Homo sapiens: one gene and its partner. The protein of the gene in region 1 purifies or fractionates together with the protein of each later gene. This does not show direct contact. Each region holds a gene or a part of one and is shown on either strand. Other genes may lie near its edges.

Evidence for each region. Proteins that work in one complex are often made in the same cells at the same time.
Region 2: the proteins of SCAI (region 1) and AHDC1 purify together in Homo sapiens (affinity purification with mass spectrometry; 2 studies listed by BioGRID). This does not show direct contact.

What each region holds. Positions count from the first base shown.
Region 1 is NC_000009.12:125,014,506-125,021,537, forward strand, and holds part of SCAI (protein SCAI), read right to left. Parts: intron 6,265-7,032; coding exon 6,168-6,264; intron 4,701-6,167; coding exon 4,602-4,700; intron 4,447-4,601; coding exon 4,294-4,446; intron 1-4,293. UniProt on the Homo sapiens protein: Tumor suppressor which functions to suppress MRTFA-induced SRF transcriptional activity. May function in the RHOA-DIAPH1 signal transduction pathway and regulate cell migration through transcriptional regulation of ITGB1.
Region 2 is NC_000001.11:27,533,735-27,538,166, forward strand, and holds the end of AHDC1 (transcription factor Gibbin), read right to left. Parts: intron 1,183-4,432; 3' UTR 511-1,182; downstream 1-510. UniProt on the Homo sapiens protein: Transcription factor required for the proper patterning of the epidermis, which plays a key role in early epithelial morphogenesis. Directly binds promoter and enhancer regions and acts by maintaining local enhancer-promoter chromatin architecture.

The DNA.
Region 1 (7,032 bases):
AAACCACTGCTCAATGAAATAAAAGAGGATACAAACAAATGAAAGAACATTCCATGCTCATGGGTAGGAAGAATCAATAACATGAAAATGGCCATACTGCCCAAGGTAATTTATAGATTCAATGCCATCCCCATCAAGCTACCAATGACTTTCTTCACAGAATTGGAAAAAACTATTTTAAAGTTCATATGGAACCAAAAAAGAGCCCGCATCGCCAAGTCAATCCTAAGCCAAAACAACAAAGCTGGAGGCATCACGCTACCTGACTTCAAACTATACTACAAGGCTACAGTAACCAAAACAGCATGGTACTGGTACCAAAACAGAGACATAGATCAATGGAACAGAACAGAGCCCTCAGAAATAACGCCACGTATCTACAACTATCTGATCTTTGACAAACCTGAGACAAACAAGCAATGGGGAAAGGATTCCCTATTTAATAAATGGTGCTGGGAAAACTGGCTAGCCATATGTAGAAAGCTGAAACTGGATCCCTTCCTTACACCTTATACAAAAATTAATTCAAGATGGATTAAAGACTTAAATGTTAGATCTAAAACCATAAAAACCCTAGAAGAAAACCTAGGCATTACCATTCAGTACGTAGGCATGGGCAAGGACTTCATGTCTAAAACACCAAAAGCAATGGGAACAAAAGACAAAATTGACAAATGGGATCTAATTAAACTAAAGAGCTTCTGCACAGCAAAAGAAACTACCATCAGAATGAACAGGCAACCTACAAGATGGGAGAAAATGTTCGCAACCTACTCATCTGACAAAGGGCTAATATCCAGAATCTACAATGAACTCAAACAAATTTACAAGAAAAAAACAAACAACCCCATCAAAAAGCGGGTGAAGGACATGAACAGACACTTCTCAAAAGAAGACATTTATGCAGCCAAAAAACACATGAAAAAATGCTCACCATCACTAGCCATCAGAGAAATGCAAATCAAAACCACAATGAGATACCATCTCACACCAGTTAGAATGGCAATCATTAAAAAGTCAGGAAACAGGTGCTGGAGAGGATGTGGAGAAATAGGAACACTTTTACACTATTGGTGGGACTGTAAACTAGTTCAACCATTGTGGAAGTCAGTGTGGCGATTCCTCAGGGATCTAGAACTAGAAATACCATTTGACCCAGCCATCCCATTACTGGGTATATACCCAATGGACTATAAATCATGCTGCTATAAAGACACATGCACACGTATGTCTACTGCAGCACTATTCACAATAGCAAAGACTTGGAATCAACCCAAATATCCAACAATGATAGACTGGATTAAGAAAATGTGGCACATATACACCATGGAATACTATGCGGCCATAAAAAAGGATGAGTTCATGTCCTTTGTAGGGACATGGATGAAATTGGAAATCATCATTCTCAGTAAACTATCGCAAGAACAAAAAACCAAACACCGCATCTTCTCACTCATAGGTGGGAACTGAACAATGAGAACACATGGACACAGGAAGGGGAACATCACACTTTGGGGACTGTTGTGGGGCGGGGGGAGGGGGGAGGGATAGCTTTAGGAGATATACCGAATGCTAAAAGACGAGTTAATGGGTGCAGCACACCAGCATGGCACATGTATACATATGTAACTAACCTGAACATTGTGCACATGTACCCTAAAACTTAAAGTATAATAAAATAAAATAAAATAAAATAAAATAAAATAATAAATACAAAAAAAAAATACAAAAAATTAACCGGGCGTGGTGGCACACACCTGTAGTCCCATCTACTAGGAAGGCTGAGGCAGGAGAATCGCTTGAACCTGGGAGGCAGAAGTTGCAGTGAGCTGAGATTGCACCACTGCACTCCAGCCTAGGAGACAGAGCAAGACTCTGTCTCAATAAATAAATAAATAAATAAATAAATAAATAAATAAATGTCAGTTATCTAAGCAAATTAAATTCAAAATAGGAAGAAGGAAATAAGAATCAGAATCAATGTAAGAGAAAAAATTAGAAAAAATCAGTATTTCATTTACTACAATATATCGAGGCCTATTAAAATGCCATAATAATGAAGTCAGAAGTATCAGCATAATAGACAAACAGACCAAAGGAACAGAATGAGACTCAAATATATTTGAACATCAGATTTATGATAAAAGTGACACTGCAGTGTGGCAGGGAAAAGATGGTCTTTTTAGTAAATGGTGCTAGGTCTACTGGAAATCCAGAAAGAAAATCTGACCCATACTTCACACTAAAATAAATCCCAAAGATATCATAGATCTAAATATGAAAGGTAAGGTAAGCAATGATTTCTCAAAATAGGACACAAAAAAGCTAATACCAGAAAGGAAAAAAATTATAAATTAGACTACATTAAAATTAAGGACTTCTGTTCACTGGAATCTCAGTATCTGGAACAGGGGCGTCTGGCATAGCGTAGATACTAATAAATATTTTAACAGATGTTTAAAGAAAAGGAGAAAAAGAGACAGAAGATATCAGAAGAGAGTAAAAGGCAAGACAAGAGTAGGAGAAGATAGTTCAACACATAAATCTGACAAAGGACTTTCATGTAGAATATATTCAGAACTCTTACAGATCAATAAGAAAATACTGGAAATGCTTGGTCATAGAGTGTGCACATATGGAGCTGTACTAGATAATGCCTGACACTTTTCTAAAGTAAATCTATCAATTTCTATTTCTACATAGTATGAAATATTCAGTTCTTGTACTAGTTGCCAGGATATGCTATTATCAGTTTCTTGGTCTCTTTTGTTTTTAGTCATCTAGTTCGGTGATATCTCATTTGGTTTTAATTTATATTTTTCTGATTAGAAAAATTTTCTTTGAATTAAAAAAAAGTGAGAAAAATACCGAGCCTTAAGATAGTATAACTATACAAACCATAAATGTTTCAAAATATTTCCATTTAGTATATTCATACTATAATTTCAAAAACGTTGTAGACATTTGCAAAATAATGGTCATAAAAGCCAAAAATGGAGAAATACCAGAAAAATTTAACAATAACAAAAGTGATTGATAGATGCTAGGATAGGATCCAAAATTAAACTTGTATAAAAAACACATCTAGAAAAATGTATTCACTGGTGTAATTTCCAGTAAATTTCATTTCTAGTACATTAAATCTCATCATCATGGTGCTACTCTGTCATGAAAAAACATTTGAAATTCACTTTTGACAAATTTACCCAAAAACAACTCCTGGCCAAGTGCGGTGGCTCACACCTGTAATCCCAACACTTTGGGAGGCTGAGGCAGGAGGATCACTTGAGGTCAGGAGTTCAAGACCAGCCTGGCCAACATGATGATGCCATCTCTACTAAATATACAAAAATTAGCCGGGTGTGGTGGTATGTGCCTGTAATCCCAGCTACTTGGGAGGCTGAGAGGCAGGAGAATCGCTTGAACCTGGGAGATGGAGGTTGCAGTGAGCCAAAATCATGACACTGCACTCCCACCTGAGTGACAAAGCAAGACTCTGTCTCAAAAAAAAACAAAACACAAAAAACACCAACTCCTCGCCCCTTTTTGCTTGATTGGAAAGTAGGACATATACATTTTGGAAACTTTATTATTATTATTAATTTTTGAGACAGAGTCTCGCTCTGTCACCCAGGCTGGAGTACAGTGGTGTGATCTTGGCTCACTCCAACCTCCGCCTCCCAGGTTCAAGTGATTCTCTTGCCTCAGCCTCCTGAGTAGCTGGGATTACAGGAGCATGCCACCATGGCTGGCTAATTTTTGCATTCTGTAGTAGAGATGGGGCTTCGTCATGTTGGCCAGGCTGGTCTTGAACTCCTGACCTCAAGTGATCTAACCACCTGGGCTTCCCAAAGTGCTGAGATTCCAGGTGTGAGCCACTGTGCCAGGTCAGAAATTTTGGAAACTTTAGAATGTTGTAAAAAATAAAATAAAAATCCCCTATAATTTGGTTATTTGGAGATAAAACTTAGATAGTTGTAACATTTCTTCCTCGTCTTTTTCCTGTGTGCATACATATAGACATTCTAACATATATGAAATAATTCTGCTTCCTGGCTCCATGGCAAGTTTATTTTCATTTACTGTATCACGAGTATCTTTCTATGTTATTAAAAATTCTTTCTAAGCTATTTAAATATCTGTAATATATTCCATATATGCACACAGCATAATTTAATCAGCAATTTCCTCACAAGAGGATGTTAGGATATTTATAAGAAAATAATTCTGTGATCATCAATAGCACTATTTTTCACAGTGAATTTTAAGCATAATTCCTTCACAATTCTTTACCTGATTATTACAATTACCAATAATGAGTGCGTCAGCCAGAGACAACTGTCCCACAATCATGCCCTGTTCCAGCAATGGGGCTCCTGTTTCAGCAAGGCGATTCGATGTGATAACAATGGTATTATCATCATTTAATACCATTACAGGATCCGCCTAAAGAAAAAAGCAATAAGAACTTAACGAATGGCCAAGACTAAATATCAATAGAGTAAGCTATTCCTTCTTCTTGACATATACACACAATAAAAACATAAACTACACGGTCATTTATTTATCAATAATTATGATTTTTCTTATCAAAAACTGACCTCAATGAAAGCTGCTACTTCTTGAAGCACCAAGTTCCATTCCACTTGATCTTCAGTATTAAATCGGTGAGTATAATCTTCAATTTCATCTGACAATTCCTGATTTTAAAAACATCACAAAAAAGGTTATTAAAAAACCCATAAAAACACACAGCCATATAGAACCATATTCCTGACAGAAACCGACATACTTACAAAATTTGATTATTAGCAATACACAGTCCTGATTATAACAAAAAACAAAGATGAAAACTAATAAATTTTCTTCAAAAGTACAAACTTCAGAATAACACCCATCAAATAAAGTCTTTACAGAGATCTACTTCCTATCAGTACTACATGAGCAATGAATTCATTAATGAAAGAATCAGAAAAGAGAAATTCAAAAATTTTAACAATAAAAAAAAATGAGGCTGGATGCAGTATCTCATACCTGTAATCCCAGCCCTTTGGGAGGTCGAGGTGGGAGGATCATTTGAGGCCAAGATTTCGAGAGCAGCCTAGGCAACATAGTGAGACCCTACCACTACAAAAAATTATATATTTCTAAAAATACTTCCTGACTTTATTTGGATTTGTATTATATGGTTTTTGGAAATATTTTTAATGGTAACTGGGTATAAAGGAAGGTAGAAAAGGAGAACAGAGAGCTACTTCTGGTGGCCTTGTCAAAACTGGCATGTTGAGCTGGGCACGGTGGCTCATGCCTGTAATCCCAGCACTTCGGGAGGCAGAGGCTGGCGGATTGCTTGAACTCATGAGTTTCAGACCAGCCTGGGCAACATGGTGAAACCCTGTCTCTACAAAAAACACAAAAATTAGCTAGGAGTGGTGGCTTGAGCCTATGATTCCAGCTACTCAGGAGGCTAAGGTGGGAGGACTGCTTGAGCCCAGGAGGCAGAGGTTGCAGTGAGACAAGATCATGCCACTGTACTCCAGCTGGATGACAGAGCGAGACCTTGTCTCAAAAAAAAAAAAAGAAAAAAAAAAAACCCCACAAAACCCAAAAAACCAACTGGCATGTTATACTTGATACAAAATTAAGTATGCCATTGAAACTATTGAATACAGAATGCAATCAGAATTTAATATGCAATGATTACAGGTATTAAGTGGGTCTGAAGACAGTTAACTCTTAATCACCTCAGTTAATGAAGGAGAGACTTTATGCAGACACTCTAAAGTGGTGGGAAAATGAAAATCATTTGCAAGGCCTTTGTAAAGCATTATGTACTTTTTCTTCACATAACATTTCAATTATTTTCTCTTAAACTAAGAATTTTTGTTTGTTTGCATTCCCAGCCATCCACTGATGGGCTTTGAAATGTAAAACATGCAGAAAGGACAAAAGCAAGGAATCAAGATAATTATCTCAGATTAGTGTATTTGTAACATGAAAAGAGTTGGAAAATTTTTTTATCATTACCCTTGTCAGAAGTTACTATACTTTGAATATTGTAATTATTGATATATCAAAATTATTTTAACCTAAAATCTGTTTTTTAAAAATAAGATCATCCATATACAACTAGAGATTAGAATTTGAACTATTTAAAGTGTATTTACCTTTACCAGATCCTTTACAACATCCATTTTGTTGAGAAGAAGACAAACTACTATAAATCTTGCATAATATCGTAACTTCTTAACTACCAATTCAGGTCTATGGAAGATAAATGAAAAATTACTCATTAGATTAAAAAAGAATGCTTTTTGATTTTTTTAATTTTCTGATAGCTTTTAAAACTCTTTCCCTCCTTTTCTGCACAATTATAAACATTCCCACATATAAGCATATAGTCTTTTTAAAATATTTCTTACTGATTTATTAAGCTGTTTACTCATATATTCATTCATTTAACAAGTATTTATTGAGAACTTAGATGCATCAGATACTGTTAATTGCTAAAAGCACAGTTGTAAAAAACTAGAGATATTCCCTTCTTCAAAGATCTTACAGACAGAAAAGAACTTAAAATATACAGGAGAGAGATAAATGCTTACAACACAACGGAATAATATAATGATAGGAGAAATAAAGAATGCTATTTGTGCCCACAGGACTAGATCTTGGGTGAGAAAAGGCTTCCTAAAGAAAGTAATAAATGTTTAAGTTAAGAATACAACGAAGCGTGGAAGACTACAGGCAGGAAAATATGATCTCTGTGCCTTTTACTTGATGTTTTTAGACCAATTACATTTAATGTCATTATTGCTTTGGCTAGGTTTATATCTACCACCTTGCTATTTGTTTCCTACTTGCTCCTTCTCTTGCTATGTTCCTCTGTTGTTCCTGTTGTGCTTTCTCTTCGGTTAATCAAATATTTTTTAGTGTTCCATTTTATATCATCTATTGGCTTCCTAGTTATACTACTTCTTTGTTATTGTTCTTTAAGTGATTGCTAGGAGTAACAACGTGCATCCTTTAACT
Region 2 (4,432 bases), on another chromosome or scaffold:
AGAGATGTCCCTGAACCAGAGTAGAACTGTGAGGCCCAAAGGCCATGAATACACAGGACACACAAAGGGACTCGAGGCAGAGACCTGGGACCTTGGATGGAATAAGGGGGTCCAGAAGCAGGAGCCCCATGATGGAGGTTCCTCAGGGAGAGGAAACCCAGCATTTGGGGAGACCTTGGACTTGGGATAGAATATAGGGAGAGTCAGAGGAGACCCAGGACCTAGGACAAAATGGAGGTCCAAGAGGCAGAATCCCTGGACCTGGGACTGAACGCATGATCAAGGGCCAGGATGTCCTCGGCAGCAGAGTGGGGAGCTCAGAGGCAGGGGAGACGCAGGGCCTGGAGTGAAATGAGGGGGAACCCAGATCTCAGGCAGAAGGGAAAACTCAGTGGCCAGGAACACGTGTAGGTATTTCAACTCCTCTGGAGAACCAGTAGCTGGTGACAAAACCCAGCGGTGTCCCTTCCATTCCCTCCACCCTCACTCCCCCTTTCACAAGACACAAGGTTGGTTTTTTTTTTTTGTTTTTTTTTTGTTTTTTTTTTGCTTTTTTTCATTTCTTTTTAATACAAACTTGGATCTTTGGGTGTGTCCTGCCAACAGAAAACAACAACAACAACAACAGAAGAGAAAACCCAAAAGAGTGAAAAATAAGAAAGAAAAAAAAAGCTCCCGCAAGAGGTTCTTCTCCCTCCCCCCCACCATGCGAATTTGCACACCACGGGACCACAGCAGGTTTACAGAATGCAATATACAATCCACGATTTATAATAAAACAGTATATACAATAAATAGGATATTGTTCATTTTTGTCAAACGACCTGTAGATAAATTTCTCAGTGCATACTTGCAGGGGCTCTGGACACCTCGGGGCCCCGCTCGCAACCTCTTGCACACGCTCGCTCTCTCGCTCTCTCTCTCTCTTTTTTTTTTTTGTCTTTTTCTAAAACTGTGTTTTGTTTTTAAGTTTTGTACATTTTTAAAAAGTATTTACAATTGCTGGTTTTGTGCAGAAAGGGCTCACCTTCGGCTTCTGCGTGGAGGAGATGGGTGGGAGGGGGTGGAGGGAGATGGGTCTGCAGGGGGTGTAGGGGGCAGGGTGGGAGGCAGAGGGGCAGGAGCTCCTGCCAGAGGACGATGTGGACGCTGGGAGGGATCTTGGCGTTGGTTTTCTGAAAGCTGCAAAGAAACACAAGAGAAGAGGCAGGAGTGAGCGGCACGCATCGACTGTGCTCTGAGATCAGGGAAGTGAAGAGGGAGACCCCCACCCAGCTCCTCCCAGGATTCAGCAGGGTGAGGGGGAAAGCTAACCACTGTTCTTTCTCACAAAAACTCAGACCTGCCTTCTCTGAGCCCAGTTTCCCCATCTGTAAAATATGCGTGTCCAAGCCCCAAAACACAGGGTGAAGCAGGTGCTGGGTGAGGAGGTGGGGTTCCAGGCAGTGGAATTTGTTAAGAGCTTGGGCTCTGGAATCAGACACAGCTGAGTTCAAATACCAGTGCCACCCTTTAGTAGTGCTATGACCTTGGGCATGTTGTTGAACTTCTGTGAGCCTCAGTTTGCCCATCTGTAAAAAGAAGATAACTGAACTACCCCATTGGTTTGCTGGGAGGATTCAGCGGTATAGGACAGATGAAGCCTGGTCCTTAAGTGCATAATAAATTATACTGATTATTATTCATTATTATTTTTCTGGGGCAGTTAGGCTCTCCAAACCTGCCTCCTCATGTCATGATGAGTTTAGTAATTCCTCCAACTTAGGCTGTTCTGAGGAATGACATCATGGGGAGGGCAGGGCCTCAGCACACAGCACAGGTGTGAACAACTGCTTTTATTTCTTCTAAATCCAATCCTCTTCTTACCAATGCCATTCTGTTCCTTAGAGAGGTGAGGTGAGGAGGAAGTCTTTCTCAGTGAAAGAACAGAGAAACTGCCCAACACAATGCCATCTGTGTTTGGCTTAACCCTGCCTTCCTGAAGCTCAGACACTCCCAAGTTCCCAGTTCCTCCCATCGCCAGACACTCGAGATTGGAAGTACCCCTTTTTCCCAGACAGTTCTCATTATGCTTGCGGGGCCCTGGGGATCTGACTTCCCTACCCAGACCCCCAGCTTGGCTAGACCCCCTGGATTCACAGCTCTGCTAGGGTGAGTGAGAAGGTCCCCTGAAGGACAGGGATGGGCTCGGGACTTCCTAAGAGCTCCAGTCATTATTAGCCTGGTCCTTTCAGACTTCTGTCCTCCTCTCAGAGCCCCGAGACACACATCTCCCACCCTCAGTGTGCGACCATCTCCATCCGAATTAAAGGGCGAGGTGAGGATGCTGAAAGGGCCTCCTCAGGTTCCTTAGGAGCCCATCCGTCCTCCCCCACACCAGCAGGAATCAGGCGGCGGCAGAAAGCCTCTCCTCCCTTGTACTTTCTTGGCTTCCCTTTCTACCAGAGCCACATTTAAATTCTGCTCAGCCTCGGCTGCTGTCTGCTGGGCAGTCAGCCCCGGGGACGACTTTTGTCCTGAGGCTGGACTTGCCAGGACTCCCCCAAGGTCCAGGGGAACCAGGTGGGCTCCTGCAGAGGCAGGGCAGCACCTCATCCTGGTGGACCAGACCAGGTGGCAGGCAGAGGCATAGGAGAGGAGAAGAGCTGCATCTTTGTTAAGCTGTCAGGTTGCCTGCAGTTGCAGGAGGATGGAATACTAGCCGTAGGGGCGAGCGGTGTGCCTGGGAGGGTGACAGCTGTGCTGCAATGGGGTGATAGGTAGAAAAGCAGCTCTTGGGGCAAGGGCTGCTGCTGGGATGAATGCAAGCTCTCCACAGTCAGGCGGTAAACAGGCTGCAGAGACAAGAGGGGTGTCTATTAGGGAGCAGAATGATTTTATCTGGGGTAACTGCTTGAGCCAGAGCGCTGGGGGCATCTATCCAGAGGACTGCTCTATTGCGGTTGAAGAACAGTTGCCAAGCTAAAGAACCTCTGTTGGGGTGTTGGGGGTGACAAGGGAAGGGGACTTTAGGATGGGCTGCTCCAAACCACTGGCAAACTGATATTGTCCAACGCCAGCCTCCCCTGCTCCCTCCAAGGGCCCCGGGGCAGGCTGGGAGCCTCTGCACAAATCCCTGCACCCCCACCCCCACCCCAGGCCCTTAGCCACTGCCAGTGACCCTCTCTAAGCCAGGTCTCCATGGTGATCTCAGCCCAGCAGGCGGCTCCTGCCAGAACCATTCCCGCGGTGCCTGCGGCCAGGCAGCAGGAGGCTTTCTCACCCTCTGCTAAGCCGCCCATCGCGTCTCACCTTCCTCCTCCCACTACCCTCCCCAGCTTTCAGGACTTGGCCAGCCAGAGACTTTGGCAGAATCTTCGGGATGGGAAGGAGCGGGGGAGGGGGGAAATCAAAGCCCAAAAGCCCCAGGGTTCTCTCATGGAGGTGGGGGAGAATGCTGTGGCTGTGTGGAACCCTGACCTCACCAGGTTCAGCTCTCCACAAAGCAGGACCAGACACTAACGTGCCAGGCAGCCCAGTGCTAGGCACTGGGGACAAAGCAGAGACCAAGACCGATCTGGTTCCTGTCTTTGAGAGGCTCACAGATAGAGGGGAAAGCAAAGCAGACCCCAAACCAGGGTAATTACCACGCAGGGAGACAGGGGCTGTGCCACGGAAGGTCCTGGGGAGGCAGCTAACCTGGTCGTGGCAGGAGAGACTGTGGCTCTTCAACCACTGCTGAACACTACCCAGCACATGCTGGGGCCAAGACGTACGCTGACTGAGTGACAGAGCGGGGACTGACCTGAGTCTGGTCAGCATGTCAAGGTCCAGCTCCGGCCTTGCACACCTTCAGAACACCTCCTTAGACCACCCTGTTACCATAGCTACGGTACCCTTGTCATCCCGACCTGGCTCCTCCAGGGCAGGAACCTATATGTGGTACTGCTGCACACCCAGGGCTAGCACGCACCGGCCCCCAGCACACCAACCACTGTTCTGCAGACTTCACCTTTTAGTGCCTCCGTGACACACAACTGCAGAGCCACATTCCTCTGAGTCCTCATGCTCCGGTGGTTTCACCATCTGAGGTGCCAGGGCATTAAGTGGTCTCTGCCTGTCAAGGGGGGGACTGGCACTGGCAGCAGTGAGGGACAGCTGAGCAGAGATTCAAAGTGCTGCAGAGCACATATAAATCAGGTTGTCCAGAGGGGGCTGCTCTCCTCCAAAAAGGAAAAGGAATATATATTTGTGCTTTCATTTAAGTGAACAGCAAACATGTATTCATGCCCACTGGCTGCCAGGGCATGAGTTAAGGTCTAACCTCTACTCTCTAGTCTCTACTCTCTTGAAAGGGTCCAATGTCAAACAAGGCAGTAGAGCAGAAGGCAAAAAAGAGTGCATGAGGCCGGGCAGGGTGACTCACGCCTGTAATCCCAGCACTTTGGGAGGC